Linked DNA regions of Homo sapiens: regions 2, 3 and 4 are each linked to region 1. Evidence: fine-mapped expression QTL. A gene starts in region 1. Each other region holds a variant in brackets. All regions are shown on one strand. Distances are between the middles of the regions.

What was found.
Region 2: its variant is fine-mapped to the expression of TNFSF10 in blood mononuclear cells (TOPMed, PIP above 0.99). The same link has a PIP of 0.9 or more in monocytes and whole blood.
Region 3: its variant is fine-mapped to the expression of TNFSF10 in whole blood (TOPMed, PIP above 0.99). The same link has a PIP of 0.9 or more in blood mononuclear cells and monocytes.
Region 4: its variant is fine-mapped to the expression of TNFSF10 in whole blood (INTERVAL, PIP above 0.99).

What each region holds. Positions count from the first base shown.
Region 1 is chr3:172,521,504-172,529,678 of GRCh38, reverse strand. It overlaps TNFSF10 (TNF superfamily member 10), which reads left to right and starts at 6,249. Exons shown (of 5, transcript NM_003810.4): 1 at 6,249-6,426. The coding sequence starts at 6,295. It also overlaps the pseudogene TBPL1P1. RefSeq lists an enhancer at 6,268-6,317.
Region 2 is chr3:172,554,606-172,562,939 of GRCh38, reverse strand. It overlaps LINC02068 (long intergenic non-protein coding RNA 2068), which reads left to right. Exons shown (of 4, transcript NR_146714.1): 4 at 1,871-2,039. Among named protein-coding and RNA genes, the nearest start is that of TNFSF10, 35 kb to the right of the region's middle. The variant A/G (reference allele first, on the strand shown) is at 3,751.
Region 3 is chr3:172,572,843-172,581,176 of GRCh38, reverse strand. LINC02068 (long intergenic non-protein coding RNA 2068) reads left to right here. Exons shown (of 4, transcript NR_146714.1): 3 at 6,837-6,904. Among named protein-coding and RNA genes, the nearest start is that of LINC02068, 19 kb to the left of the region's middle. The variant G/A (reference allele first, on the strand shown) is at 3,256.
Region 4 is chr3:172,494,930-172,503,263 of GRCh38, reverse strand. No RefSeq gene overlaps it. Among named protein-coding and RNA genes, the nearest start is that of TNFSF10, 24 kb to the left of the region's middle. The variant T/A (reference allele first, on the strand shown) is at 4,097.

The sequences.
Region 1 (8,175 bases):
TGGACAAGACCAACCATGAAATTTTAATCTAAGCCTTCTCATGTTAGGTTTACTGATATTCCAATGGTCAGATCACATTACCAAGTCCCACATGGGTGAAGAGGGGATATATACTCCTTATATACTGATATGAACTGTGAAGCCACATGGCAAAAGGTATGAATAGAGAGATGGATGAAGAATTGGAGAAAATAATAAGATCTACCATATTAACCTATACCCCACCCCATCCTCCAACATAAAGAAAGAAACACTTAGGTAGTGACTACTGTTGGTATAATTGCTGTTTTTTTGGTTTGTTTTTGTTTTTTTTTGAGACGGAGTCTTGCTCTGTCACCTAGGCTGGAGTGCAGTGGCATGATCTCAGCTCACTGCAACCTCCACATGGCCTGATATAATTGTTTTAATAGCTATTGAAGTCTTCTCAGAAGATGCTGGGTGTGGTGGCTCGTGCCTGTAATCCCAGCACTTCGGGAGGCTGAGGCGGGTGGGTCACCTGAGGTCAGGAGTTCGAGACCAGCCTGGCTAACATGGCGAAACCCCGTCTCTACTAAAAGTACAAAAATTAGCCAGATGTGGTGGCAGGCACCTATAATCCCAGCTACTCGGGAGACTGAGGCAGGAGAATCACTTGAACCCAGGAGGCAGAGATTGCAGTGAGCCGAGATCACATCATTGCATTCCAGCCTGGGAGACAGAGTGAAACTCTGTCTCAAAAAAAAAAAAAAAAGCTGTTATCTCCAAAGAGTTTGTAAAAAGTGGACAGATACTTTGTATTGCTTAAGAGGACTCACCTGGCAGCAGTTTGCCCTCTTCATTCTGGAAGCTCAGTTGTCCCAACACATATGAGATTACTAGCCTGAATGAGCAGCTATTGAGTGGTGGAGTATGGATGCTCGGGCAGAAGTGTCCAAACACATATCCAATGTCATATCTAGTGTGATGGGGGGAGGAGGAATAAATGATTTGAGGAATACAGAATTGTTTTTGCTCCAATATAGTGTGGATAAAATAGCCAAAGTTTAGAGCAATTTACCTGGAAGCAAATAGATGTGAATTCTAGTCATTCTGCCATTTTGTAATTCAACAACCACGACTAACTCACTTAACTTTTGGTGCTTTAGTTTCCTTATCAACCAAGCAATAGAATTTTCCTGGGGGTCTTTAAGATGTCTAACAGTCCAGTCATTTTATGATTCTACCATTGTCTGATTATAAAAATAATAGGATTTGGCTGGGCGTGGTGGCTCATGCCTGTAATCTCAACACGTTGGGAGGCCGAGACGGGTAGATCATCTGAGGTCAGGAGTTCGAGACCAGCCTGGCCAACATGGCAAAACCCCGTCTCTACTAAAAATACAAAAATTAGCTGGGTGTGGTGGCACGTGCCTATAGTCCCAGCTACTTGGGAGGCTGAGGCGGGAGAATTGCTTGAACCCAGGAGGCGGAGGTTGAAGTGAGCAGAGATCATGCCACTGCACTCCAGCCTGGTGACAAAGCGACATTCCATCTCAAAAAAAAATTTAAAAAACAATAATAATAGAATTCATTTCTTCACTCAAAGACAGTGTGTCCAAGACCTGACAAGACTTCATTTTTATTTTTATTTTACTTTTTATTTTTTTGAGTCTACGTGTCCTGCTCTTGCCCAGGCTGAGGTGCAGTGCATGATCTCAGCTCACTGCAACCTCCTCCTCCGAGCCTGAAGTGATTCTCCTGCCTCAGCCTCCGGAGTAGCTGGAATTACAGGCACGCACCACCATGTCCGTGAGCCACCGCACGCGCCCAGCCTAACAGCTCTTATAATTAAATCCTTACTTCAGAAGAAAAGTTTTAAAATCTTTAAAAATCTTCAAAAATCTTCACAGGGCACCAGTGGCAGCAACAGCTTCTGTTTTTCCCTTCATGTTAAAAGCAAACAAGGATCAACTATTGGCAAAATTAAGTGCTGGAAGTATAGATCTTTTAGAGAAATACCCAGCCTTATAGTCCCGAAACCTTTTCCTGCATCTCTGCTTGAGGAATGTACAGTCTTCTCTTCACCTCCTTTGTCCCTTGGTCTGATTAGGAAAACAATCCAAGCCTCCCAGTGTGGTTACTTAAACTTACTTTAACATTTACATTTTAACTAACATCTTTATTCACAGAATGAAATATTTGGCACTTAGTCTAGGGATGTCATGCACTAGGAAACAAGTAATAGATTTCTTGTAAGGCTTGGTGGGGAAGACTTAACAATTCTGTGTCTGTGACCATTCTGCAGAACACACTGCTGCTCCTGAGGTAAAGAGCCTTAAGATTCTGGAGACTATGAAATGCTCATTCATCCAACCAGCATAGATCGTGCTCACAGTGTGCAAGGCATTGGTAGCAATGCATGTGGCAAAGTTTCACTCTCATGCAACCTACATTCTTATAAATGGGGTAGCCATAAAATAAACAAATAAGTATAGAAACAAACAAGAGGCTGGGCGTGGTGGCTCACGCCGGTAATCCCAGCACTTTGGGAGGCCGAGGTGGGCAGATCACGAGGTCAGAATATTGAGGCCATCCTGGCTAACAAGGTAAAAGCCCATCTCTAGTAAAAATACAAAAAATTATCTGGGTGTGGTGGCATGCACCTGTAATCCCAGCTACTCAGGAGGCTGAGGCAGGAGAATCGCTTGAACCCAGGAGGTGGAGGTTGCAGTGAGCGGATACGGCGCCACTGCACTCCAGCCTGGGGGACAGAGTGAGATTCCGTCTCAAAAAAAAAAAAAAAAAAAGGAAACAAGATACACTGGAAGTTCTCTAACCTTCAGTCAGTATGTTCCACACAGGGAATGAAGAACTTAGGCTATTCTTCTGTTTCCATCTATATATCTAACAAGAATTAAATTATTCTCAGAACTGATTATGCCAGTTGTAATTACATAGTTCATATAAATATCATGGAAGCCAATAAAATATGAGTTGTTTCTTGGAATGCTGAATTTAATGCTTTGTAAGGACTTCATTAAAAATTACTTAAAAATTATAAAACAGGCCGGGTGCAGTGTGTAATCAAGCCTGTAATCTCAGCACTTTGGGAGGCTGAGGAGGGTGGATCACTTGAGGTCAGGAGTTCAAGACCAGCCTGACCAACATGGTGAAACCCCGTCTCTACTAAAACTACAAAACATTAGCCAGGCATGGTGGTGCACAGCTGTAATCCCAGCTACTCAGGAGGCTGAGACACGAGAATCTCTTGAACCTGGGAGGCGGAAGTTGCAGTAAGCCGAGATCCCACCACTGCACTCCAGCCTGGGCAACAAAGTGAGACTCTGTCTCAAAAAAAAAAAAAAGTATTTTTAAAAGGTTCTCAGCCGGGTATGGTGGCTCACGCCTGTAATCCCAGCATTTTGGGAGGCCAAGGCAGGTGGATCACCTGAGGTCAGGAGTTTGAGACCAGCCTGGCCAACATGGTGAAACCCTGACTCTACTAAAAATACAAAAAAAAAAAAATTAGCCAGGTGTGGTGGCGGGCACCTGTAGTCCCAGCTACTCGGGAGGCTAAGGCAGGAGGACCACTTGAACCCAGGAGGTGGAGGTTGCAGTGAGCTGAGATTGTACCACTGCACTCCAGCCTGGGTAACAGAGTGAGACTCTGTCTCAAAATAAATAAATAAAATAAAATAACAAATTCTCACTCCAGTTTAAAGAAACTGAATTGCTGATTAAAGGTTATGGTTAATGTATGGATGCCAGTCAGCAGATCCATGCTAGTAATAATAATAATAATGGCTTTAGCTCTATATTATTTAAACATTGTTATAACAAAAAGATTAAGATTTCTCTATATCAAATATGTATATATAATATCTTCATATTTAATACGTTAGGAGGCTCAAAGATAGAGGTAGCCAGACCTCTTGACTTTTTTTTTTTTTTTTTTTGAGCTGGAGTCTTGCTCTGTCACCCAGGCTGGAGTTCAGTGGCACGATCTCTGGTCACTGCAAGCTCTGCCTCCCGGGTTCACACCATTCTCCTGCCTCAGCCTCCCAAGTAGCTGGGACTACAGGCACCCACCACCATGCCCTAATAATTTTTTGTATTTTTAGTAGAGATGGAGTTTCACCGTGTTAGCCAGGATGGTCTCGATCTCTTGACCTCATGATCCGCCCGCCTCGGCCTCCTAAAGTGCTGAGATTACAGGCGTGAGCCACCGCGCCCAGCCGACTCTTGTAACTCCTCAAATCACCCCATCTCTTGACCTGACCCCGAGATAAGCCTCCTTATTTCCACACTCTAGACTTTCTTACGTGCTTATAAGATAGAGATGTTGACTTCCTGCACGTTTCCCATTCCTTCGTTTCATGCCTTTCACGTACATCATAGCCGTAATGTTTCTATTTCTGGATTATAACAAAGGTGTTAAGTTGGTTTTCTTTGGTCTTCTCCCCTGTGTTTCTCTGCCATCTCTCGTTTCTTGTTTCTGCCCTGCCCGGCTGTGTGTCTTGTGCATTACGGTTATCCTACTCATCTTTCACCTGATTTAAAAAACTCATTCAGTCTAGGACTTAGAGTGTAAGTGTGTTCAAATAGTGTTAGGTTCACATAATGTCTAAAACTTTTAGTAGGAAAAATGCTACCTTGCCAATTTGTCTGTGTCTGAAAGGAATTTGCATTTAAAAATTTGGCAATTTGACAGAGGCAAATTTAAAATTTGAAAATATTTTCTTAAATATAGACTCATTTACAGATAGAAGGCAAGGGCAGGAAGTGATGGTGACCAGCGGTGCCTGAATGAACTCAGGAATGTAACTGTAGATCTAGGGTCCCAAACTTTAGGTTTCAAAGGATCTCTTGGAGTACTTGCTGAAAAATGTAGGTTCCTAAGTCCACTGCCAGAAACTCTGACTCAGTGGGTCAAGAATGGAATAACTAAACAATGGCCCCATGCAGTGGTTCATGCCTGTAATCCCAGCACGTTGGGAGGTTGAAGCAAGAGGATCACTTGAGGTCAGGAGTTCGAGACCAGCCTGGCCTACATGGTAAAACCCCATCTCTACTAAAAATACAAAAAAATTAGCTGGGCATGGTGGCATGCACCTGTAATCCCAGCTACTTGGGAGGCTGAGGCAGGAGAATTGCTTGAATCTGGGAGGTGGAGGTTGTAGTGGGCCGAGATTGTGCCATTGCACCACTGCACTCCAGCCTGGGCGATAAAGTGAGATTCTGTCAAAAAAATAAATAAATACATGAAAGAGAGAAAGAAAGAAAGAAAGAAAGAAAGAAAGAAAGAAAGAAAGAAAGAAAGAAAGAAGGAAAGAAGGAAAGAATAGAAAAGAAAAGAAAGAAAGAAAGAAAGGAAGAAAAGGAAAGAAAGAAATGCTGAATAAGATATAGAGACAACATACAGCTGGGCCAGCTTATGACATCTGATAGTGGGGAGATTTGGGGCTGGGTCCTGAATCTGAGGGTAATTAACTCCCTGTAACTTCTTTTCCTAATCTGTAAAAGGATAGTGACAGCGAGACATTGTGATGGGGTTAATATTTTGGAAAACATCCACATGTTTTTTTCCTTTGCCTTTCTGAGTGTGTCAACTACTTCCTACCTGTCCAGCCTAACACACAGGCATGTTGTCTTGGTAGGGATGGAGATCTGAGAAGGAGATTAGAATTTGTGTCTGAAGGTTTGCAAAGAGGAAGAAGTCGTCAATATTTAGATTCTGACATTCAAGATGGAATTATGTAGCAAGACCATTGCTATGAGACAGTATTTCTATTTTCCTTTATCCACTCCCACCCTGCCCTCTTCCCACCCTCACAGTAGCATGAGAAAAACCACATATGGAAGTTTCAGGTCATAAAAATTATCTTATAATTTAGAAAACAGGCCTTGTGCCTATGACAGCCAGGCCATGAGGCTTAGAGCTCTGTGGTAGAATGAGGATATGTTAGGGAAAAGCAAAGAAAATCCCTCCCCTCTTTGGCTGAGGACATTATCAAAAGGAGAGCAAGAAAGAGAAGAGAGAAATGGGCTTGAGGTGAGTGCAGATAAGGGGTGCATGGATCCTGAGGGCAAGGAGAGGAGCTTCTTTCAGTTTCCCTCCTTTCCAACGACTACTTTGAGACAAGAGCTGTCCCTGGGCAGTAGGAAAGGGGAGGGACAGTTGCAGGTTCAATAGATGTGGGTGGGGCCAAGGCCACAGAACCCAGAAAAACAACTCATTCGCTTTCATTTCCTCACTGACTATAAAAGAATAGAGAAGGAAGGGCTTCAGTGACCGGCTGCCTGGCTGACTTACAGCAGTCAGACTCTGACAGGATCATGGCTATGATGGAGGTCCAGGGGGGACCCAGCCTGGGACAGACCTGCGTGCTGATCGTGATCTTCACAGTGCTCCTGCAGTCTCTCTGTGTGGCTGTAACTTACGTGTACTTTACCAACGAGCTGAAGCAGGTCAGTGCAGTGCAGTGCACTCAGTCTTCGAGGCGCTTAGCAAATGTCTGGTTACCTGCTTCTTTGCATGTCAGCTTGCCCCTCTCTGAAGACTTTCCTGCTTCCTTTCTCTGTGGGTACACTCTAACTGCTAAATCACATAACAACTGAGGTCTTTGCAAAACTGTAAGTTCAAGAAATTGTGTAAACTAAGTGCAGTTACACAACTGGCTTCACTAGTTACTAGCAGATGTGGGCAACAAAACTCCTGAGGGATTTTTTGTTTTTAAAAGTATGTGTATTTTATAATATCAGCCATTGCAACTCTTCATGAAAGCTTTCTGCTAAATGCTTTGTAGTTCTTTTGTTTTCCTTTTCCAAACTTTTATTTGTGCACATTCAATTGAAAAAGATAATTTTTACAGGTTCTTTGGTGCCCATTTTCAGCATACAAAAATGTAAAAGACTATTCACAGATAAAACACATTAGCTCAAAATGGAAAAAAATAACAATGACAACAATAAAACAACCTAAGGTAGTGCACACTGTGACAGCTCTGCTTATGGGGACATGAGAATTCCTGCGAAAATAAATAGAATGTCCTTTTGTAAAAGCAGCAATGACATGTCTTGTAAACTTCCTTTTTTATATTATAACAAGGTTTGGAATAAAATCCAAAGGGACTGGAGCTTACACTGTAGCCATGAATAAATAAAAGAGTCTATTTCCTCAATTACCGTTGGTTCAGTTTTCCTTTTGAGTCCAATGTGCAGCAGGTTTTAAAAGGTGCACAGTAAGAGATTCTAACCAATTAAGTGGTGAATGATAAAATTTCTTTCCTGCTTTCAAACACAAATGGGTAAATCTGTTCCACAGCAGTAGCAACAGCCTTTAAATAGGGCCTTGTTACTGTGATACTTCCTGTCGAAAAAATCTGTAATGTAGCTCTTAGAGTCTTTATCCAATAGCACACAGCAGGATGAAGTTCAGATTCATAACTCACATGAGGTCTATTGCTCTTTGTGAATTCTGGCAAACAGATTTCTTTATTTTTAAATTTTTTTATTTTACTTTAAGTTCTGGGATACGTGTACAGAACGTGCAGGTTTGTTACATAGGTATACATGTGCCATGGTGGTTTGCTGCACCCATCAACCCATCATCTAGGTTGTAAGCCCCACAGGCATTAGGATTTGTTCTAATGCTCTCCCTCCCCTAGCCTCCCACCCCCGACAGGCCCCAGTGTGTGTGTTGCCCTCCCTGTGTCCATGTGCTCTCACTGTTCAACTCCCACTTATGAGTGAGAACATGCAGTGTTTGGTTTTCTGTTCCTGTGTTAGTTTGCTGAGAATGATGGCTTCCAGCTTCATCCATGTCTCTGCAAAGGACATGAATTCATTCTTTTTAATGGCTGCATAGTATTCCATGGTGTATATGTGCCACATTTTCTTTATCCAGTCTATCACTGATGAGCATTTGGGTTGGTTCCAAGTCTTTGCTATTGTAAATGGTGCTGGAATAAACATATGTGTGCATGTGTCTTTATAGTAGAATGATTTATAATCCTTTGGGTATATACCCAGTAATGGGATTGCTGAGTCAAATGGTATTTCTGGTTCCTTGAGGAATTGCCACACTGTCTTCCACACTGGTTGAACTAATTTATACTCCCACCAACAGTGTAAAAGCATTCCTATTTCTCCACATCCTTCCAGCATCTGTTGTTTCCTGACTTTTTAATGACCACCATTCTAACTGGAGTGAGATGG
Region 2 (8,334 bases), 33 kb before region 1:
CTCCGCCCTTTTACTGTTTCCTGACTCATTTCCTCACACTTTTTGTGGAAACAAGTTAACATTAATTTTAAAAGTGAAAGCTGGATGCCTATGAATCTTAAAACAACTTTTGAGAAAAAAAAAAAACCTCTTTGTCCTTCTTCTTACATATAAATGCAGGTAATATTATGGGGTCTTTGCTTGCTTTACTTCTTTAGCAAGACAGGACCATTGTTATTAGGATTCTGCACTAAGCCATACTGACTTGATGTTCATCATCAAGGCCAGCTGTGGCTCCATTTATTTTATTTTATTTTTTATTATTTTTTGAGATAGAGTTTTGCTCTTGTCGCCCAGGCTGTAGTGCAGTGGTGCGATCTCGGCTCACTGCAACTTCCGCCTTCCAGGTTCAAGTGATTCAGCCTTCCAAGTAGCTGGGATTACAGATGTTCGCCACCACGCCCGGCTAATTTTTGTATTTTTATAGACATGGGATTTCACCATGTTGGCCAGACTGGTCTGGAACTCCTGACCTCAGGTGATCCACCAGCCTTGGCCTTCCAAAGTGCTGAGATTACAGGCGTGAGCCACTGCGCCCAGCCTCAATTTTAAAATGGGTAAAGTTGAGCTTCATTTCCTCCTTCTCAAAAATGTTTTCCATTTGCCCCTGATGACTCTTGAGTTTCAGGTTCTGTAGATCTTTTCAGTCAATGGTAAAAACACTTTGACAAACTCACTCATTCATACCAGATATTGGCGACCTTATATATAAGTGTTCCCAGAGCACTGCCACTTTCAGAGACTATATTAAAATACAATCATGTGCCGCTTAACAATGATGGGGATGTGTTCTGAGAAATGTGTCATTAGGTGATGTTGTCATTGTGTAAATATCGGATTGTGCTTACACAAACCTAGATGTTATAGCCTTCCAGACCCAGGCTATAGTTTATTGCTCCTAGGCCACAAACCTGTACAGCATGTTACTGTACTAAATACTGCTGGCTATTGTAATACAATGTTAAGTTACAGTAAAAATATGATACAAAAGATAAAAATGCTATGCTTGTATATGGAGCTTGCAGAACTAGAAGTTGCTGTGGGAGAGTCAATGATTGAGTGAGTGAATGTGAAGGCCTTAGGACATTGCTCTACACTACTGTAGACGTTATAAACACTGTACACTTAGGCTACACTAAATCTATTAAACTTTTTTTTTTTTGAGACAGAGTCTTGTTTTGTTGCCCAGGCTGGAGTGCAGTGGCACAATCTCGGCTCACTGCAACCTCCACCTCCTGGGCTCAAGCAATTCTCCTGCCTCAGCCTCCTGAGTAGCTGGGATTACAGGTGCGCGCTACCACGCCCGGCTAATTTTTTATATTTTTGGTAGGGACGGGGGTTTCATCATGTCGGCCAGGCTGGTCTCGATCTCGTGACCTCGTGATCCACCCGCCTCAGCCTCCCACAGCTCTGGGATTACAGAAGTGAGCCATTGTGCCCGGCCACATTTTTTCTTTCTTCAATAATAAATTAAACTTAGCTTCCTGTAACATTTTTAGTTTAAAAATATTTTAATTTTTTTTAAACTTTGTGATTCCTTTGTAATAACACTTAGTCTAAAACACATTGTCTAACTGTACAAACATATTTTCTTTCTTTATATTCTTAGTCTATACGTTTTTCTCTATTTTTAACAATTTTTATTTTTAGTTTTTAAACTTTTCATTAAAAACAAAGACACAAACACACATACTAGCCCAGGTCTACACAGGGTCAGGATCATCAATATCACTGTCTTCCATCTCTATGTCTTACCTCGCAGGGAGACGGGGGCAGTAACATGCATGATCACCAGTATCACTGTCTTCCATCTCTATGTCTTACCTCGCAGGGAGAGGCGGGCAGTAACGTGCATGGAGCTGTCACCTCCTATGACAACAACACCTTCTGGAATACCTCCTGAAGGACACGCCTGAGGATGTTTTACAGTTAACTTTTTAAAAAATACATAAGTAGAAAGAGAACACTCTAAAATAAAAATAAAAGGTATAGTATAATAAACACAATAACAAAGTCACTTATTACTATCAAGCATTGTATGCTGTACATAATTGTATGTGCTATGCTTTTATATGACTAACAGTGCAATAGATTTGTTTACACCACCATCACTAAGGGCATGCAAGTAATGTGTTGTGCTACAACATACTACAACTATGATGCCACTAGGTAACAGAAAATGTTCAGCTCCATTATAATCTTATGGGACCACCTTCCTAGATGCAGTCTGTCATTGATGGAAACGTTGTTACACAGCACATGACTATAGACTAATAGCCATAGATTTATAATATGGGAGGATGTACTATATATGCATTGAAAAGAGCTCTGGAAGGATACCAATACATTACCAGAGGTTGCTTCTGGGCCTTAGGGTATGTGTGGTTTTATATTTTCTCCTTTGCACTTTTCTGTGTCGTATCCAAAATTTCAACAACATAATACATTTACTGTTAGGAAAAATAACCTATTAATTAAAAACAAGATACAGGAAAGAGGGAAATGTTGCAGCTAGCCACAAGGTTAATAACTTATTTTAAAACATGTTAGGAACTATTTATTCATTTGTTTGATTATTCATTCAAGAAATATTTTTGATTGCCTAATATGTGCTAGGAATTTGGCTATGCTCTGAGGCTAACAGGTGAACAAAGCAGTGATTTATTTGCTCTTCTTTGCATTGGTCGCTATAGGAGGAGGCCAATAGATGCTATCGCATGAAAATAATAATTGTTGCTGGGCGTGGTGGCTCACACCTATAATCCCAGCACTTTGGGAGGCCGAGGTGGGTGGATCACCTGAGGTCAGGAGTTCAAGAGCAGCTGGCCAACATGGTGAAACCCTCATCTCTACTAAAAATACAAAAAGTAGTTGGGCGTGGTGGTGCACACCTATAATCCCAGCTACTCAGGAGGCTGAAGCAGGAGTATCACTGCAACCCAGGAGGTGGAAGTTGCAGTGAGCCGAGATCACACCACTGCACTCCAGCCTGGGTGACAGAATGAGACTCCGTCTCAAAAACAAACAAACAAAAGCAAAATGAAAATAATAATTTTTTTTTTGAGACTGAGTTTTGCTCTTGTTGCCCAGGCGAGATCTCGGCTCACTGCAACCTCCGCCTCCCAGGTTCAAGCAGTTCTCCTGCCTCAGCCTCCCAAGTAGCTGGGACTACAGGCGTGTGCCACCATGCCCGGCTAAGTTTTGTATTTTTCGTAGAGACAGGATTTCACCATTGTTGGCCAGGATGGTCTCGATCTCTTGACCTCGTGATCCACTCGCCTCAGCCTCCCAAAATGCTGGGGGGTTTACTTTATTTTAAAATAAAAACTCCTAACCTCTTAAGTTAAATAAAATGTTTTAATATATAAACATTCATTTTTATGCCAACATAGTCATAAAATATTACCTAATTTTTTTTTTTAATAGAGGAAGGGGCCTGCAAAGCAAAGGTGTCAGGCCCATGAAAGTCAGAGTAGAGCCCTGGCTGTGGCCCCAAGGAAAGGCAGTTTTTTAGTTTGCGTCCCACATGCTGGCAGTTTTCAAAGTCTGACTGCAATATTTAGAAGAGAGAACTCTGCAGAGAGATGGCCTCTTTGGGTTTCCCCACAGCAAAACAAAACACTTCATGAAAAACACCCTCATAAATTGGTCCTCACTTCAAATCACAGGATAGTTGCATAACTTGTGTCCCCATTGTGGACAGCTGCTTCC[A/G]GCTCAGGGAGATGGCATGATTCTCTGAGGAGTTGGAGTAGTTTGGGTGATGCATGGCGTGTGCATATTCTCTTACTGTAAAAAGAGAAGCAAACCTATAATGATGATAATTTGACACAGTGGGTAGAAAGGGGTGGGCAGGATCTGAGGATCGTTCTGTCAGGGACCAACCGGTCATCAAAGAAATTGTTAAGTTAGCACAGATTAGAATAATTGATGCTAACATTATCTCTGGATGGACTATTCTACCTCATGACTCTCATGAAAATGGGGTGGATGGCGGGGCGTGGTGGCCCATGCCTGTAATCTCAGCACTTTGGGAGGCTGAGGCAGATGGATCATCCAAGGTCAGGAGTTCGATACTAGCCTGGTCAACATAGTGAAACCTCATCTCTACTAAAAATACAAAAAATTAGCTGGATGTGGTGGCGTGTGCCTGTAGTCCCAGTACTTGGGAGGCTGAGGCAGGAGAATTGCTTGAACCCGGGAGGCGGAGGTTGCAGTGAGCCGAGATCGTGCCACTTCACTCCAGCCTAGGTGACAGAAAGGGACTCCATTTCAAAAAAAAAAAAAAAAAAAAGAAGTGGATGTCAAAGTCATCTGGGGAGCATTTACAAGGTGAAGGCATCCACAAGAGTCTAATTCCCCACCCTCCAACCCTCACCCCATCCAGGGAAGTTTCCATACCTTCCTCTTAAAAATCACTGCCATAGTAAGCTCCTGTTACTGAAGAAAACATATTATATTTCTCAATGTGATGAACTGGGGGAAAGATTGATAACTGCTGATGTGGAAGACAAAGGAATACTGAGAGACGGGGAGCCAACACCTTCCTATTATTTACCATGGCCAGGTGCTGTAGTGCTTTACGTATTTAACTCATTTAGTCTTCACAATAATCCTGCAAGGGGGTTAGTGTTACTAACCCCATTTTCTAGATAGAGAAACTGAGGCACAGAGCGGTTAGGTAACTTGATTGAGGCCACATAGACAATAAGTGACAGTGCTGGGAGACAAGCCCAGAGCCTGGCTCTGGAGTTTGTGCTATGACTAGTTACTGAGTGGAGAAATCAATCATCAAAACGACACCCACGTATTTTACAATGCCTGTGCACATGAACTAGCTAGAAAATCTGTATATTTTACTAATAATGTCATGTGTTCTTTTCCCGACCCTTTGTTTTATAAAACCCTAGGGAGGCATCCTTCCATTATCATTGAATAGGAATTCTGGAATCCTGTGTACACCCAGCCATTTATCTGGAGGTATCTGGCAAAGGACTATTTTGTTAAAAAAAACAAAAAAAATAACTAGCCAAAGTATGAAGTAACAAAATTTGTACTTTGAGATGCCACATGTATTGAAACAAGTCTGGATTTATTTATATCTTTAATCATTTTCTCTCATGTTTCAACATGTTTTTGGTCTCTCTAGTAGGTTATGAAATCCAGTTCAAATAGATTTCTCAACAGTTGGTTCTGAACATAGATGCTCAGGGGAATATCAAGAACTTTCTCTAATTCACCACTCATGTCCAACATGAAAAGGTGTTAGAAAGCTACTGCTTTGTTCTTGTTATTTTCTGGTTTCCTATTTCTCAGCTGTGAACTTGAGTAGGTCTGTATTGGGACCAACCTCTTCCTTCTTCAGCCATCACTGCCTGCCCCAAGTGCAGCTCCCAAGCTGGCCTTGACCACTCAGCCTTTGCATGCTTTCTCCTTGCCCTTCCCCTAACCCTAATGAGGATTTTACCTCTCAGGGAAAATGCCTGTCCTTTTTAAATGTTTCCTCTGTGAAAGGCATTTCAGCCATCTGGGAAACACAAGGAATGCTCTTTGCTAAAGGCATACCTCCCAGTCAACTGTTTAAACTTTATTTAAGGGTGGACAATAAATTGCTTTATGTCCCTGATTATCTGCCCAATTGCAAATGAAAATGGACCCATGACAAGAGTTGTAGAAGGTCGTGAGAGGAAGCAAAGTCTTTTTTTTCTCCAGAGCTATAATGGTGCAGGAATACTCTGCCAATTCTCTCTCTCTCTCTTTTTTTTTTTTTGAGAAGGAGTTTCACTCTTGTTGCCCAGGCTGGAGTGCAATGACGCGATCTCGGCTCAGTGCAACCTCTGCCTTCTGGGTTCAAGCGATTCTCCTGTCTCAACCTCCCGAGTAGCTGGGATTACAGGTGCATGCCACCACACTCAGCTAATTTGTGTATTTTTAGTAGAGACGGAGCTTCATCATATTGGTCAGGCTGCTCTCGAACTCCTGGGCTCAGGTGATCCGCCCATCTCGGACTTCCAAAGTGCTGGGATTACAGGCGTAAGCCACCACACCCGGCCCAATTCTCCTTACTGAGGTGTGTGTATGTAGTATTTAGTTTATTTTTATGATTGCAAAAATAATACAGAATTGCCATCTCTATTCGGAAAACAAAGAAAGGCACGAAGATGAATATAAAGTAATCTACAGTCCCACAGCCAGAGATAATGCATGTTAATCATGTCAATATGTAGATATTAACTCGTATCCACCAAGTCATTAAAAGGACATGTTCTATTCACTGTTTTGTTATATGATTTTTAAAAAATCTAATTACTGGCTGGGCGCGATGGCTCAAGCCTGTAATCCCAGCACTTTGGGAGGCCAAGGCGGGCAGATTATGAGGTCAAGAGATCGAGACCATCCTGGCTAACAGGGTGAAACCCCGTCTTTACTAAAAATACAAAAAATTAGCCAGGCGTGGTGGCTGGCGCCTGTAGTCCCAGCTACTTGGGAGACTGAGGCAGGAGAATGGCGTGAACCTGGGAGGCGGAGCTTGCAGTGAGCCGAGATTGTGTCACTGCACTCCAGCCTGGGTGAGAGAGCAAGACTCTGTCTTAAAAAAAAAAAATCTAATTACTGTATTTTGATTTTTTCATATCATTAAATATTCTTCTATCAATACCACATACCAAACATCATGTCACTTTATTGATGTATCTGGCCCCTAAATTAAATTTAACATATTTAGTGTATATATTTAGGTTGAACTACTTTTAATAGCTATTTTTCTAGTTTAAAGTAGTTGAGTATCACCGATTTCAGTGTTTCAACCTGATATTTTCCTGTTACTAGATTTTTAGGTTACTTCCAAATTTTCTTTTATAAACATTGATGCACTGAACATTTTCCCCATAAATCTCTTTGCAAAACTGTGATTATTTTCTTAGGATACATTCCTGGCAGTGGAATTGCTGGGCCAAGGGGGATGAATATTTTTATGGCTTTTGATACACAATGCCAACTTTCCTTCTCGATAATGCTGATTTATAATCTCTTTGGTATCTTCTCTGCTGCTTTTTTTTTTAAAGACTCAATTATTCTGTTCAGTTAAACTTTGTATTAATTACCATGAAAACATGTGACTATTGGTTATCTTTCAGCACAGTCTTCCATTTTATACTTTATCAAATAATATTTTTATGTGCGCAGAGCCCTCATAAATCCTTATTTAATGTAGATTTGAGGATAAATATTGCTTAGATCCAATCACCACGTAGAGTGGTGATGTACTAAAGGAGAGGGAGACATGGTGTGGGTACACGTGTGCACGTAGATGAGTGTGTATATAAGTATACATTAGGGAACTCTGACAGTCACTCTTCTACAGGTAACAATTGATTGGGTCTAAAGGAAAAATTTTATCTATTTATTTATTTATTTTTTGAGATGGAGTCTCACTCTGTCGCCCATGCTGCAGTGCAGGGGCGCGATCTTGGCTCATTGCAACCTCTGCCTCCCGGGTTCATGAGATTCTCCTGCCTCAGCCTCCCAAGCTGGGATTACAGGTGGCTGCCACCATGCCTGGCTAATTTTTGTATTTTTAGTAGAGATGGGGTTTCACTATATTGGTCAGGCCAGCCTCAAACTCCTGACCTCAAGTGATCAACCCGCCTCGGCCTCCCAAAGTGCTGGGATTATAGACATGAGCCACTGCGCCTGGCCTGTTACCTTTAGTCTCAGATTAAACTACCTAACTTTGAAAGAAAAGCTTGCAATAGGAGATTTACAACCTGATAGAAAACATATGCTGATAATTTGCATGTACATTAAATGGACAACTTGCACATTATTGAGTTATTATACATTATTGGGCTTATTAATTCATATTAAGAAATTACAGGCAACATAATCCTTCTCTTTTCCTAGAATAAGTAATATAATAGATTTTTTAAAAATGAAAATATGTTAAAATCTCTGTACCTCTTCCCTACCACGCTGTGCATTTGGAAATATGAAATAACAGATAAGTGACAGCTCTGATTATCAAAGCAGGAGCAGAATTTACAACTTAAAGTTTCATAAAACAACACTGAAATAATAATTTTCAAATCAGCAAAGATGTTTCAAAACTACACTTGTAAGATTTGTTCTCTTATGCAAGTGTTAGTGAGAGTGTGAATTAGTAAAACCTTTCTGAAAACAACTTGGCAATATGCTTTAATAAACTTAAATTTTTTTATCTTTTAATTTAGTAGTTTAAAAGAGCAATTAGATATGGAGGAAAAGATTTGTGAACAAGTGAAACATTCACAATACATTGAT
Region 3 (8,334 bases), 51 kb before region 1:
CTGGAAAAATTTCATATGGTAATTCATAAGGCAATTTTTGAAAGGAAGTCAATATGTCACAAATTGAATGTAACTTTGAAAATCTTTACCCTACTTTGGAAAAAAGTATCATTTTAGTATAACATAAAATGAACTACATGACTGTCCTCTCCATGGTTAAATTCCTTGTCTGCCAACATTATATAACTGACTTTTGTTTCTTCTGATTTGTTTTCATGCAGTTAATTTTCAAGAGGAAGAGCTTCCTTCCTAAATTTGATTCAAATCTATTCCAGGAACAAACAGAAGCTTAAAGTTTCTTTTCACAGTTTCTTTTAAGGCGCCACTTTTGTTTCTCTGTGGTTTCATTATGAGAAGTAACTCAAAGTGGAAGAAGATTGTTGTAATGTATTGCATTTCTATACTTGAGAGAGTTTTTAAGTTCTTCAGATAAGTATGGTATGTGGTTGCAAGGTAATTTTCACTTATTTGCAATAATACAAATTTGTGAATTTCTGTTATTTGTTAGCTACACAGTTTATAGTATTTTGTTACAGCAGGCCCAACAGAATAAGAGAGACAATAAGCAGATTCTGGGAAAATGGCAGAGTAGGAAGAACCAGGAATCTCTCTCCTGACCTACCCAACTAATGCAGTGGCAGAATATGACTTAACTATCTTGGAACTCTGGAGTAATCTAAGGTTCACAATTTCCAGAGGAAGGCTTAGGTTGTGTATTAGTTTGTTCTTACGCTGTTATGAAGAAATACCTGAGACTGGATGATTTATGAAGGAAAGAGGTTTAATTGACACACAATTCCACATGGGTGGGGAGGCCTCAGGAAACTTATAATCATGGTAGAAGACAAAGGGGAAGCGAGGACCTTCTTCACATGGTGGCAAGAGAGAGAAGAGTGAAGGAAAAACTTCCAAACACTTATAAAACCATCAGATCTTGCGAGAACTCACTATCATGAGAACAGCATGGGAGAAACTGCCCCCATGATCCAATCACCTCCCTCCCTTGACATGTGATGATTACAGGTGCTTCCCTCGAGGTGTGGGGATTACAGTTTGAGATGAGATTTGGTGGGGACACAGAGCCAAACCATATCATTCCACCTCTGGCCCCTCCCAAATCTCATGTCTTTTCACATTTCAAAACCGATCATGCCTTCCCAACAGTCCCTCAAAGTCTTAACTCATTTCAGCATTAACTCAAAAGTCCACAGTCCAAAGTCTCATCTGAGACAAGGCAAGTCTCTTCCACCTATAAGCCTGTAAAATTGAAAGCAAGTTAGTTACTTCCTAAATACAATGGGAGGACAGGCCTTGGGTAAATGCTCCCATTCCAAATGGGAGAAATTAACCAAAACAAAGGGGCGACAGGCCCCATGCAAGTCTGAAATCCAGCAAGGCAGTCCTTAAATCTTAAAGCTCCAAAATGATCTTTTTTGACTCCATGTCTCACACCCAGGACACACTGATGCAAAGAGTGGGCTCCCATGGCCTTGAGTAGCTTCTTCACAGGCTGGCATTGAGTGCCTATGGCTTTTTTAGGTGCACGGTGCAAGAAGGAGGTGAATCTACCATTCTTGGGTCTGGAGAACAGTGACCCTCTTCTCACAGCTCCCCTAGGCAGTGCCCCAGTGGGGACTCTGTGTGGGGGCTCCTACCCCATATTTCCCTTCCACACTGCCCTAGCAGAGGTTTTCCATGAGGGCTCTGCCCCTGTAGCAGACCTCTGCCTGGCCATCCAGGCATTTTTATACCTCCTTTGAAATCTAGGCAGACATTCCCAAACCTCAATTCTTGACTACCATGTACCCACAGGCCTAACACTACAGGGAAGCTGCCAAGGTCTGGGGCTTGTACCCTCTGAAGCCACAGCCTGAGCTGTACATTGGCTCCTTTTAGCTATGGCTGGAGCTAAAGTGGCTGGGATGCATCATACCAAGTCCCAAAGCTGCACACAGCAGTGGGGGCCTGGGCCTGGCCCAATAAATCATTTTTAACCTCCTAGGCCTCCAGGCCTGTGATGGGAGGAGCTGCCGCCAAGATCTCTGACAGGCTCTGGAGATATTTTCCCCATTGTCTTTGTGATTAACATTGGGATCCTCATTACTTATGCTAATTTTTGCAGCCAGTTTGAATTTCTCCCCAGAAAATGGGTTTTTCTTTTCTACTGCATGGTCAGGCTGCAATTTTTCCAAACTTTTATGCTCTGCTTCCCTTTTAAACGTAAGTTCCAATTTCAGGTCATCTCTCTCAAGTTCAAAGTTCCACAGAAATCTAGGGCAGGGGCAAAATGTCACCAGTCTCTTTGCTAAAGCATAGCAAGAGTGACTTTTCTCCATTTCTCAATAAGTTATTAATCTCCATCTGAGACCACCTCAGCCTGGACTTCATTGTCCATCCATATCATTATCAGCATTTTGGTCAAAACCATTCAACAAGTCTCTAGGAAGTTCCAAACTTTCCCACATCTTCCTGTCTTCTTCTGAGCCCTCCAAATTGTTCCAATCTCTAACCATTACCCAGTTCCAAAGTTGCTTCCACATTTTTTTGTATTTTTGTAGCAGTACCCCACTACCTTGGTACCAATTAACTGTATTAGTCTGTTTTCACACTGCTATAAAGAAGTACCTGAGACTGGGTAATGTATAAAGGAAAGGGGTTTAATTGAATCACTGTTCCACATGGCTGGGGAGGCCTCAGGAAGCTTACAATTATGGCAGAAGGGGAAACAGCCACCTTCTTCACAAGGAAGCAGGAGAGAGAGCACACAGGAAAAAACTGCCACTTTTAAAACCAGCAGATGTCATAAGAACTCACTCATTATCATGAGAACAGCATGGGGGAAACCACCCCCATGATCCATTCACCTCCCTCCCTTGACATGTGGGAATTACATGTTCCTCCCTCAACACAAATAGGGATTATAATTCAAGATTCGATTTGTCTGGGGACACAGAGCCAAACAATATCAGGTTGTAAATTGCAGTTAGTTTCAGTCATTGTCAGCTGTAGCCATCCCTTACCCTCAGCGGCTTGGCAGGCAGCTGTGCAGATGATCCTGGAGTAGCTTACACATAGCTTTGCCCAGTGTGGACAAAGGAATGCTGTACTCTAATTATTGGGGATCTGTGCTCTAAATTGTTGCTTCTAAACATAGAAGTACAGAAAAAGGAAACCACTGTTGCATGTTCTCTTATTGTTGCCCCCCTCCCCCACCGACCCCACTTCCCCCACCCTCTAGTGACTTCCAGGAAATTT[G/A]AAAGGCAAGTGCTTTTTCCCCACTTTCATTTTTCTCCTTTCTTTTCTGGAGGGTCAGACATTAAGGACTAGGACATTTGAAATTAAGTCACCACATAAACCCGGGGAAAGGGGTACAGACTCAGAAAACACTTGAGAAGACCTTACGTTTGCACCTCAGGCTAATGCTCAGCACACAGATAGCCTACAACCACCCCACAAAAACCAACCCCAAAACAAAACTCGGCAAGTCCTGGGAAGGGAGAGAATCTGATTTTTAAAGTTATCACATTACTAGACCCAAATGTTCAGTTTTGAACAAAAAAATCACAAGGTATATGTATTGGTCCATTTTCATGCTGTTGATAAAGACATACCTGAGATTCAGCAATTTACGAAAGAAAGAGGCTTCTTAGACTTACAGTTCCAAATGGCTGGGGAGGCCTTACGATCATGGCGGAAGGCAAGGTGGAGCAAGTCACATCTTACGTGGAAGGCAGCAGGCAAAAAAATAACTTGTGCAGGGAAACTCCCGTTTTTAAAACCATGAGATCTTGTGAGTCCCATTCACTGTCAAAAGAACAGCACAGGAAAGACCCACCCCTGTTGATTCAGTCATCTCCCATCGGGTCCCTCTCATAACACATGGGAATTATGGGAGCTACAAGATGAGATTTGGGTGGAGACACAGAGCCAAACTGTATCAGTATACAAAGAAGCAGTAAAGCATGGACCATTCAAAGGAAAAAAAGAAATCAACAGAAACTTCCTTGAAAAGACCTGATGGCTGGTGAATCTACCAGACATAAAAACAACGGTCTTAAAGATGCTCAGAGAACTAGAGGAAGATGTAGAGAAGGTCAGGAAAACAACACATGAACAGGACGTATCCCATGACGCTCATCCAAATGAAACCATTTGGTGGGGTGCAACCCCAGAATCACGATGGGTGCCTTGTGTACAGGAGGCCAAACTTTATATAAGTATTGTACATTTAGCAGTGGGAACTACAATCCCTGGCCATGGTAAAGGTGCTAGAGGAATCCACAATTAAGTGCATGGCAACTTTCCATGTGACAGTGTTAGTTTTGAATCTCGCAGTGTCACCTGTCATTCTTGCCCACAACTGGAAATGACAGTGACCCCAGTGTCCCCAGTGTTCAAGAGACTCATAATAGTTTGTGTAGTACCCTTTTCCCCTGCCTCTCAAACTAGGGCACAGGCGTTCAGTTCCCACTGGTGGCCCCAAATCTTGGCCCCATCTTTAGTCTGTCTTCTCCAAAGATGTTAGCTCAGGATATAATGGTGGAAGTGGTTCCTTTTCAAGTAGTTTCTCTCTGGCACCCACCAATGCCTCTGCTGTTTTGAACCCTTCAAGTGTTGGTGGGAACACTCAGGGCAGAGAACCAGTCAGCAAAATCAACTCAGTCTAACAAGCATTCCTCTTGCGGTTCAATTGCTTGAACCAATCGTTTAACATTAAGATCTCAGGATTTGGGCTGGGCGCTAGTGGCTCATGCCTGTAATCCCAGAACTTTGGGATCTGCTGCACAGATCAACCCATCACCTAGGTATTAAGCCCAGCATCCATTAGCTATTCTCCCTGATGCCCTCCCTTCCCCATCCCCTGACAGGCCCCAGTGTGTGTTGTTCCCTGCCATGTGTCCATGTGTTCGCATTGTTCAGCTCCCACTTCAGGCCGAGGCGGGCGGATCACGAGGTCAGGAGATCGAGACCATCCTGGCTAACACGGTGAAACCCTGTCTTTAATAAAAATACAAAAAATTAGCCAGGCGTGGTGGCAGGCATCTGTAGCCCTAGCAACTCAGGAGGCTGAGGCAGGAGAATGGCATGAACCCAGGAGGCAGAGCTTGCAGTGAGCCAAGATTGTGCCACTGCACTCCAGCCTGGGTGACAGAGCGAGACTCCGTCTCAAAAAAAAAAAAATCTCAGGATTCATTACAGAAATGCAAAGCAAAATGACAATGAAATACCATCTCATGCCAGTCAGAATGGCGATTATTAAAAAATCAAGAAACAACAGATTTGGCAAGGTTGCAGAGAAAAAGGAATGCTTTTACACTGTTGGTAGGAGTGTAAATTCGTTCAACCATTTTGAAAAATGTGGTGATTCTTCAAAGATCTAGAGGCAAAAATACCATTTGACCCAGCAATCCCATTATTGGGTATATACCCAAAGGAATATAAATAATTCTATTAATATTATAAAGATATATGCACATGTATGTTTATTGCAACACTATTCACAATAGCAAAGACATAGATTCAACACAAATGCCCATCAATGATAGACTAGTTAAAGAAACTATGGTGCATATACATCATGGAATACTATGCAGCCATAAAAAGGAATAGGATCATGTCCTTTGCAGGGACATGAATGGAGCTGGAAACCGTTATTCTCAGCAAACTAATGCAGGAACAGAAAGCCAAACACCACCTGTACTCACTTATAAGTAGGAGCTGAACAATGTGAATACATGGACACATGGCAGGGAACAACACACAATGGGGCCTGTCGGGGTAGGGAAGGGAGGGCATCAGGGAGAATAGCTAATGGATGCTGGGCTTAATACCTAGATAATGGGTCGATCTGTGCGGCAAACCACCATGGCACACGTTTACCTATGTGACAAACCTGCACATCCTGCACATGTACCCCTGAACTTAAAATAAAAGTTGAAGAAGAAAAAAAGAGGAACGTGATAACCTTCAAAAAAGTCTCAAGATCCATAAATGCTTGAGGGGATGGGTACCACATCTTTCATGATGAGATTATTATGCATTGCATGCCTATATCAAAACATCCCACATACCCCATAAATATGTACGCCTACTATGTACCCACAACAATTAAAATAAAAAAATATAAAAAACAAAGAAAAAGAGAAAAAAATAAAATAAAAATTTAAAATAAAAACAAAAGATTTCAGTTTCCTCCCTCAGCTCATACTGATCCCTCAGTTGTTCAATAGGGATCCCATCTGTCTCTTCCTTAGCCACCATGCTTAAGCAGCCACCATGCTTAACAGCCATAGCCACACGACTCTTCCCTTGGGTCCAGGGCAGCCTGAGGCCTTCCTTTTCTGTGGCTCCTTTTATCTTTTAGTGGGCTCCTGATGGTGGTTTGGAGCTCCATTTGCTATGTGATGAGGGAGTAGCCACCACTCACCACTGTGGCTGTGTTTTTGGCAGCGCCCCACATGGGCACATTATGGTACAGTTTTCCAACGATGTCCCCCGTAGTCATTCCTAGGGAGACTAAGAGGGTTAATGGAGCCCACCTGTTGGATGCCCCCATTTTATTAAGTCGTGTATTTGCTGTCAAGCAGTGGTACATCATCTAAATCCCCTTCTGGATTGATAGAGCCATAGAGGAGGCTCCTGGGGCTCTCACCAAGTCAAAGGGTGCTTGAAAGTCTTTCTAGAATTGTTTCAATTTAGGAAGATCACCAGGTTTCAAGCAGATTGGTTTGTCACCAGATTGGTTTGTCACCTGTCCAATCCTGAGGAGTTGGCCTATTCAATGTGGGCAAAGATCCATTATAACAATTAATCCCATCCTCTCTCATCTGGTCCAGGCTTCACTCATTACAGGAGAAGAGAGTCTGGGTTGCTCCCTCATCAATCAAGTGCAGAGTCCAGGAAGGTATGAATTCGCTGGGCTTTTGGTCATATTGCTGTTTCTTCTTATCCAGCTCAATCTCAGAGAAACTTCTTATTTTAACTTGGGCAACATTGGCAATGCTGTCATTAATGTACTGCTAGGTAAAGACTGGGGGTAACTGGTCAGGGGGTGGTTTAGACCAAGGTGGCCCCAGGCTGGCAGCACAAAGGCAGCGACTCAGTAACCAGGAGATTGTTTGGTTTTGGACTTTCCCACCTCCTTAATTTTTGCCCACATCCCTCTAGTTAATTCATCAAGGTTCTCAGGGCTATTCTCACTATCCCATTTACCTCTGTTGGCAGATCAAAATGTATCTAGGCCTTATTGAGAGCTTTATCACCTTCAATATCTCCAGGAGCCAGCACCACCCTGGATGGGGTCTCACTTCCACTATGCCATGAAAAGGTGTCTTCTCAGAGACCCTGCTCACTGTACCAAATATGTTTCACCCTCCACTGGATGGTCAGGCTGTGTGCAGGGTAAACTATAACATGAATGTGGCCAAGGTTAAAAGTCAAATAAATGCTGTCCAGGGAAGGACCAGTGCATGACTTGAGGTCTCTGAGAACAGACAATATGCATATCAAGCTCAACTGGTACATTGTTTACTTACAGCAAGAGGAGAAGAGGGAATGCATAAATCCAGCCCCTTGCAGTGTGTCAGTCTCCATGGCTAATGGATTCACCCTGCAGCCAATGTAGGCAGTGCGGCTAACAATTTGTGAACTATTTTAGAGTTTGGAATACCAAAGGCACAGATGACCTCAAACTGTAGTTTTCTTTTCACTGACCTTGAAATATCTAAGGAAAATAATGGAAAATGCTCTTCTTGCCTAGATGAATTTATGGGTGTGTGTGTGTGTGGGTGTGTCTGTGTGTGTTGCCTGTGTGTGTAGTTGAGAGAGATAGAGATGAGGCTTACTACCAAATACTCAAGACCTCATTGAGAACTTTAAGAAAAAAAGTCTTAAGAAGCCTCCTTAATTACCTGTAAAACCTCTCTGGAAAATGACCTCAAGATACCCTTTGATGTCTCTCCCTACCACACTCCTTTGACAGGGGCATAAATTCCCTAGTCAATTAGGCTTCCCTCCTCTTCTGCCCATGAAATCCCCTAAAACTCCCTGCGCTGAATCCTCATGAACCTCCCCATTCACTATCCCAGAAGATGCCAGGATCCCATCAATCATGTTGCCTCATAATAAGATTGAGTCCTCAAGGCACTATCTCTAACACCCCAAAAACCTTAGGGGGGCCCACTCAATATCAATATCTGGGGCTCAGTATCCAGGACATTTGATCTCCATAGCTGGAAATTGGAAATAGGTCAACATGAAGTAGCTGTGTCCTCAGAGTAAGGCTAGATTGCAAAAGGCAGAGGATAAAGTAATTGCTTGTATATATTTATTTAT
Region 4 (8,334 bases), 26 kb after region 1:
GGTACAAAATAATCTGAGCTATTCTTAGCTCTTACTTTTCCCTGTTAATTTGGGAACCACCTAGAAGTTGTGTACATGCAGACACACACACATACAAACACACACACACAACCTTTTAGAGATTTTGATAGAATTGCATTGAATTGCTGGATTAATCTGGGGATAGCTTCCATGTTTTAGATACTTAGCTTGATACTTCCCAAACGTGAGTGACTGTATCCCCCCATTTATTTAGACCATCTAAAATGACCTCCAATAAGGTTGAATTTATTTACTTATTTTTGACATCGTGAATGGGATCTATGTCTTTTAATGACATTTTAAAGTAGCTGATGCAGGGAGCAGGTATTAACTTTGAGAAACAGTGCAACATAGTGATTGAGAGCATTGTCTCTGGATCCAGATTGATGGAATTCAAATCCTAGTTCCACCACTTACTTGAACAGATTAGTAAATTCTGGGTCTCAGTTTCCAACTCTGTAAAACAGGGTCGTTACTGTAGTCCTCTCACATGATTGATGTGAATATTAATAGATTTTACACTTAACATACTTAGCACAATGTCTGGTACATAATAAATGCAAACAAAATTTTTAACTATTGGCCAGGCATGGTGGCTCATGCTTGTCATCCCAGCACTTTGGGAGGCCAATGCAGGCAGATCACTTGAGCCCAGGAGTTTGATACTAGCCTGGGCAACATGGCAAAACCCCGTCTCTACAAAGAATACAAAAATTATCCAGGCCTTGTGGCATGGGCCTGTGTTCCCATGACTCAGGAGGCTGAGGTGGGAGAATCACTTGAACCCAGGAGACCAAGGCTACAGTGAGCTGTGATCACACCACTGCACTCCAACCTGGGCTACAGAGAGAGACCCTATCTCAAAAAAAAAAAATTGTTAACCGTTATTATTATATTGATCTGTACCCATAAACCTTACCAAACTCTCTTATTCAAAGCTTTATGAAGATACAAAGATCTTCAGTAAAAGGAAACACATAATAAAATATAAAAATCAGAATTATTGTAATTTTATTTATAAACTCTGTATTTTCTACAATATCTAAAACATAACTGCATAAAACAATTACAAGTCTATGTTAGTGGGTGCATATATAAAGATCTAATTTGGGACAATAATATGGAGTTAGGAGGAAGGGATAGAGCTCTAAAGAAGTAAATGTTTTTTATGAAATTGAAGTTAAGTTGGTATCAATTCAAAATAGATTTTATAACTTTAGGATATTATATATAATCTTTATGGTAATCACACAGAAAATATTTATAGAATCTACATGAAAGGAAATGAGATGGTAATAAAAAAGTGTCACCATAAAAAGTCAACTAAACACAAGGGAAGGTAGTAATGGAGGAAAGGGACAAAGGAAGCTATATGACACAGAAAACAAATAACAAATGGCAAAAGTCAGTCCTTCCCTGTCCATAATTACTTTAAATATAAATGGATCAAATTCCCCAATAAAATGCTATAGATAGGTAAAAAGACTAAACACATTAATTAAAAAAACCATGATCCCACTACATGCTGTCTCTCAGGGACTCATGTTAGACCTAGGAACACACATAGGTTGGAATTGAAAAGATGGAAAAAGATATTATTGCAAATAGTAACCAAAAAGGAACTAGAGTGGTCATACTAATCTCAGACAAAAATAGAGTTTAAGTGTAAAACACTTACAAGAGACAAGGGTTCATCTAGATTGGATTTACAAAGAAGTTGTGAAGAGATAGTCTAGAGAGTTCCTGTATATCCTACATGCAGTTTCCCCTATTGTTAATTTTTTTGTTAGTATGATACATTGGTCACAATTAATGAAACAATACTAATACATAATTATTAAGGAAAGTCCATACTTTATTTAGATTTCCTTAATTTTTACCTAATTTTTTTCTGTTCTGAAATCCTATCCAGGATACCATGTTACATTTAGACTTCCTTTCTTTTTAGACTCCTCCAGACAGTGGCAGTTTCTCAGATGATCATTGTTTTGAAGCCTTTACAATTTTGAGGAGCAAGCAGGTTTTCTGTAGATAACACTTTATCAGGTTAAAGAAATTACTTTCTATCCCTAGCTTCCTAAGAGTGTCAATATGAATAGGTTGTTGAATGCTTTGTCTAGATATATTGAAATAATTATATGATTTTTTGATCCATTTACCTGTTAATAGGTGCCTGCATTAATAGATTTTTTATTTATTTATTTATTTATTTATTTAATTTATTTATTTATTATTATTATACTTTGAGTTTTAGGGTACATGTGCACAATGTGCAGGTTAGTTACATATGTATACATGTGCCATGCTGGTGCGCTGCACCCACTAACTTGTCATCTAGCATTAGGTATATCTCCCAATGCTATCCCTCCCCCTCCTCCCACCCCACAACAGTCCCCAGAGTGTGATGTTCCCCTTCCTGTGTCTATGTGTTCTCATTGTTCAATTCCCACCTATGAGTGAGAATATGTGGTGTTTGTTTTTTTGTTCTTGCGATAGTTTACTGAGAATGATGATTTCCAATTTCATCCATGTCCCTACAAAGGACATGAACTCATCGTTTTTTATGGCTGCATAGTATTCCATGGTGTATATGTGCCACATTTTCTTAATCCATTTGACACAGCCATCCCATTACTGGCTATATACCCAAAGGACTCTAAATCATGCTTCTATAAAGACACATGCACACGTATGTTTATTGTGGCATTATTCACAATAGCAAAGACTTGGAACCAACCCAAATGTCCAACAATGATAGACTGGATTAATAGATTTTTTTATAATGGTAAATTATTCTTATAATCTTGAGACAAACTCTAATGGATCATGTTATTTATTATATACAGTAGTGAATTTAGTTTGCCAATATTTTACTTAGGAATTTTACTTATGTTTAGTTTACTTATGTTTGTTAATAAGATTATTTTAAAATTTTTCTTCCTCATTGTATTCATATGCCATTTTGGTGTCAAGGTTATACTAACTTCCTAAAATAAGGCAGGGAGTTTTCCCTTTTACAGAAGAGTAGAATTTTGATAAGTGGCTCAGTTTATTTAATGATTACACATATATTCATATGATTAATTTCTTTTTATTTCATATTTATCTAAAAAATATTCAAATGTTTGAACATTTATTAGCATTGATTTGTGAATAACTGATGCATATTCCACAAAATCATTCTCCAGTTAGCCTATCTTGATATAAAGCATTTTGGTTTTTAATTCAAACACTTCGTGGAACACGGGTATCTCTTACTACAACATATTTCAGATGGGTAGTTTGCAAATATTTTCTGCCATTATATGGGTTGTCTCTTCACTTTGTTGGTTTTTCATTTGTTGTGCAGAAGCTTTTTAACTTAATATGATCACATTTGACCATTTTTGCTTTTGTTGCCTATGCTATTAGGGCATTACCCACGAAATTTTTGCTCAGACCAATGTCAAGGATACAGGATAGAGTGGCAGTTACCCAGAGGCTGGAAAGAGTGTAGTGGCTGTGGGGGTCAGCGGGGGTAGGGGGTTGGGAATGAGGTGTGGATGCTTAATGGTAAAAAAAAATAGTTAGAAAGAATGAATAAGACCTAATATTTGATAGCACAGCAGGGTGACTATAGTCAATAATAATTTAATTGTATATTTTAAACTAACTAAAAGATGATAGTTGGATTATTTGTAACAAAAAGGATGAATGCTTGCGGTGATGAATGCCCAATTTTCCTTGATATAGTTATTAGACTATTGCATGCCTGTACCAAAATATCTCATGTACCCCATAAATGTATGCATAAATGTATACACCTACCGTGTATCCACAAAAAATAAAAAAATAGAACGGGCCCAGAGGCTTACACCTGTAATCCCAGCACTTTGGGAGACAGAGGCAGCAAAACACCATCTCTACAAAAAATACAAAAATTAGCTAGGCATGGTGGCACACACCTGTAGTCCCAGCTACTTGGGAGACCAAAATGGGAGGATCACTTGAGCCCAGGAAGTGGAGGTTGCAGTGAACCAAGATCTCGCCACTGCACTCCAGCCTGGGTGACAGAGTGAGACCTTGTCTCAAAAAA[T/A]AAATAAATAAAAAGTAAAAGAAGAAAAACAAGAAAAAATCATTTTTCAAACAAAGTTTAGAAGTGAAAAAGTTAATTTGCCTCTACAAAACTCAGTTCAGCAGTTTAAACAAAACATATTCTGAGAAAATTCTCAAATTACATCCCACATACCATTGAAATTCATGTTAGAACTACATGTAGACATTTCGAACAGTGTGAATAGAGACAATTTAGGTAATATGCTTCTTGGATGTTAGTAGTACTAAGTGAGGCAGCAAAGGGTCACAAACGGAAAGAAACCAAGCTCACAAACAAAACTAACTTCAAAAGGTGGTTTGTTTGTTTGTTTGTTTGTTTGTTTGTTTGTTTTTGGGGGACAGAGTTTCAATCTTGTTGCCCAGGCTGGAGAGCAATGGCACAGTCTTGGCTCACCGCAACCTCCGCCTACTGGGTTCAAGTGATTCTCCTGCCTCAGCCTCCCAAGTAGCTGGGATTACAGGCATGTGCCATCACGTCCAGCTAATTTTGTATTTTTAGTAGAGATGGGGTTTCTCCATGTTGGTCAGGCTGGTCTCGAACTCTTGACTTCAGGCGATCCGCCCACCTTGGCCTCCCAAAGTGCTGGGATTAAAGGAGTGAGCCACTGCTCCTGGCCACTAACCTCAAAAGTTTTTATAAATAGATGTTTGACACCACAGTAAATATATCCACCCTTCCAAAGGAAGCTCTCTTTGCAGAAACAGATAAAAATATCTTGGAAGGTTTTGAAATCTCAGACTAAAGAACTACCAAATTTTGTCTGTGTGCAGTGGCTCACGCCTGTAATCCCAGCACTTTGGGAGGCTGAGGCAGGCAGATCATGAGGTCAGGAGATCAAGACCATCCTGGCTAACACGGTGAAACCCCATCTCTACTAAAAATACAAAAAATTAGCCAGGTGTGGTGGCACACGCCTGTAGTCCCAGCTACTCAGGAGGCTGAGACAGGAGAATTGCTTGAACCCGGGAGGCCGAGCTTGCAGTGAGCTGAGGTCACACCACTGCACTCCAGCCTGGGAGACAGAACGAGACTCCGTCTCAAAATAAATAAATAAATAAATAAATAACGAACTACCAAATTTGTGCAGCTGGATGTGCAATGTCAATTTGCAGAAGAGATTATTGATTAAAAAGAACCCAAAGAGTAGCTAACCAAACCACCAAATGCAGCTGACGTCAAAGAATTTATGGCAATGCAGATGCAAAAATAATGTCCTTGACCATGGTGGCAATATGATAAAAGCCTTTCTTTCAAAAATGGCCCAATGTCTTTTTGGAACCATAGAAAGACGTGTATGAAAGTAAACAAGAGGAGCATCAGCAAAGAGCAAAGCTCTATTTAGCAACTTTCTTCATCCAAAAGCATCAAACCTCATTCCCTGAGAAACGGATATAGCAACATCAACATGATGGAGAATCTTATCAGATCCTGAAATTGACCCTCCACCACCTAACTCCTCTGTGCCATCACCTGCCACAACCAATGACAAACCACTACAGCTTTAACCCCCTTCCTTATGTCTCTTCTCAACTTTCTTCTACCTTAAATTTCTACTTCATTTAGTAAATATAAGCCACCTTGTTTTGCTTGTACATTTTGTCTACAGTTTTTCAAGCGATTTATTTTGCATCTTATTTGTTTAGCTATATTAGAAGTGTAATTTTTGGTCCAGTGTACAAGATGTACATGCTATTACATAGAAAGTCACTGTTAACTATATTAATTGTTTTGTGATTTGGGTTTTAAGTTACATTTTAACTTTTAAAAAGAAAATCTTATCCATTGGTGAGGGGCCAAGATGGCTGAATAGGAAATGCTCTGGTCTGCACCTACCAGCAAGACCAATGCAGAAGGCAGGTTATTTCTGCATAAATTGAGGTACCCAGTTTATCTCACTGGGACTGGTTAGGCAGTGGGTACAACCTATGGAGAGTGAGTAGAAGCAAGGTGTGGCGTTGCTTCACCTAGGAAGTGCATGGAGCTGGGGGACCTCCCTCCTTGAGCCAAGAGAAGCGTGAGGGACTGTGCTACCCAGCCAGGTTACTACACTTTTCCCGCGGTTTTTGCAATCCACAGATCAGGAGATTCCCTCTTGTGCCAACACCACAAGGGCCCTAGGTTTCAAGCACAAAACGGCGTGGCTGTTTGGGCAGACACTAAGCTAGCTGCAGGAGTTTCTTCTTTTTGTACCCCAGTGGCACCTGGAACCCCAGTGAGACAGAACTGTTCACTCCCCTGGAAAGGGGGCTGAAGCCAGGGAGCCCAGTGGTCTTGCTCAGTGGGTCCCACTCCCACAGAGGCCAGCAAGCTAAGAACCACCGGCTTGAAATTCTCACTGCCAACACAGCAATCTGAAGTTGACCTGGGACCATCAAGCTTGGAGTGGGGGAAGGGGCGTCTGCCATTACTGAGGCTTTAGTAGGCGGTTTTCCCCTGACAGTGCTAAGGAGGCTGGGAGGTTTGGACTGAGCAGAATTCACCACAGGGCAGCAAAGAGGCTGTGGCCAGACTGTTTCTCTAGATTCCTCTTAACGGGGGAGGGCATCTCTGAAGGAAAGGCAGCAGCCCCAGTAAGGAGCTTACAGAAAAAATGTCCATCTCCTTGGGACACAGCACCTGGAGGAAAGGACTGCTGTGGGCACAGCTTCAGCAAATTTAATCTTTCCTGCCTGCCGGCACTGAAGAGAGCAGCTGATCCTGACAAGGAGGATTCTCCCAGCACAGTGCACCAGCTCTCCTAAGGGACAAACTGCCTCCTCAAGTGGGTCCCTGACCCCCATGCCCCCTGACTGGGAGAGACTTCCCAACAGGGGTTGACACATACCTCATACAGGACAGCTCTGGCTGGCATCAGGCCAGTGCCCCCCTGGGATGAAGATTCCAGAGGAAGGAGCAGGCAGCAATCTTTGCTGTTCTGCAGCCTCCACTGGTGATACCAGGTGTAACAGGGTCTGGAGTAGACCCCCAGCAAACTGCAGCAGACCTGAAGAAAAAGGTTCCTGGCTATTAGAAGAAAAACTAACAAACAGAAAGCAACAACATCAACATCAACAAAAAAGACACCCACACAAAAAACCCACCCAAAGATTATCATCCTCAAAAATCAAAGGTAGATAAATCCATGAAGATGAGGAAAAACCAGTGCAAAAATGCTGAAAATTCCAAAAACCAGGATGCCTCTTCTCCAAATGATCACAACTCCTGTCCAGCATGGGCACAAGACTGGAAGGAGAATGAGATTGATGAATTGACAGAAATAGGCTTCAGAAGGTGGGTAAAAACAAACTTGTCTGAGCTAAAGGAGCATGTTCTAACCCAATGCAAGGAAGCTAAGAGCCTTAATAAAAGGTTACAGGAACTGCTAACAAGAATAAGCAGTTTAGAGAAGAACATAAATGACCTGATGGAGCTGAAAAACACAGCATGAGAACTTCGTGAAGCATACACAAGTATCAATAGCTGAATGGATCAAGCAGAAGAGAGGATATCAGAGACTGAAGACTGCTTTACTGAAATAAGCTATGAAGGCAAGGTTAGAGAAAAAAAGAATGAAAAGGAACAAACAAAGCCTCCAAGAAATATGGGACTACGTGAGAATACCAAACGTATGATTTGATTGGTTTACCTGAAAGTGACGGAGAGAATGGAACCAAGTTGGAAAACACACTTCAGGATATTATCCAGGTGAAGTTCCCCAACCTAGCAAACAGGCCAACATTCAAATTCAGGAAATACAGAGAACACCACTAAGATAGTCCTTGAGAAGAGCAACCCAAGACACATAATCATCAGATTCTCCAAAGTTGAAACGAAGGAAAACATGTTAAAGGCACCCAGAAAGAAAGGTCAGGTTACCTACAAAGGGAAGACCATCAGACTAACAGCTGATCTCTCTGCAGAAACTCTACAAGCCAGAAGAGAGTGGGGGCCAATATTCAACATTACTAAAGAAAAGAATTTTCAACCCAGAATTTCATATCCAGCCAAACTAAACTTCATAAGCAAAGGAGAAATAAAATCCTTTACAGACAAGCAAATGCTGAGGGATTTTGTTACCACCAGGCCTGCCTTATTCTACCAGAGGTAGAAATTGGAGCTGGTACCATTCCTTCTGAAACTCTTCCAAACAATAGAAAAAGAGGGACTTCTCTCTAACTCATTTTATGAGGTCAGCATCATCCTGCTATCAAAACCTGGCAGAGATACACAAAAAAAAT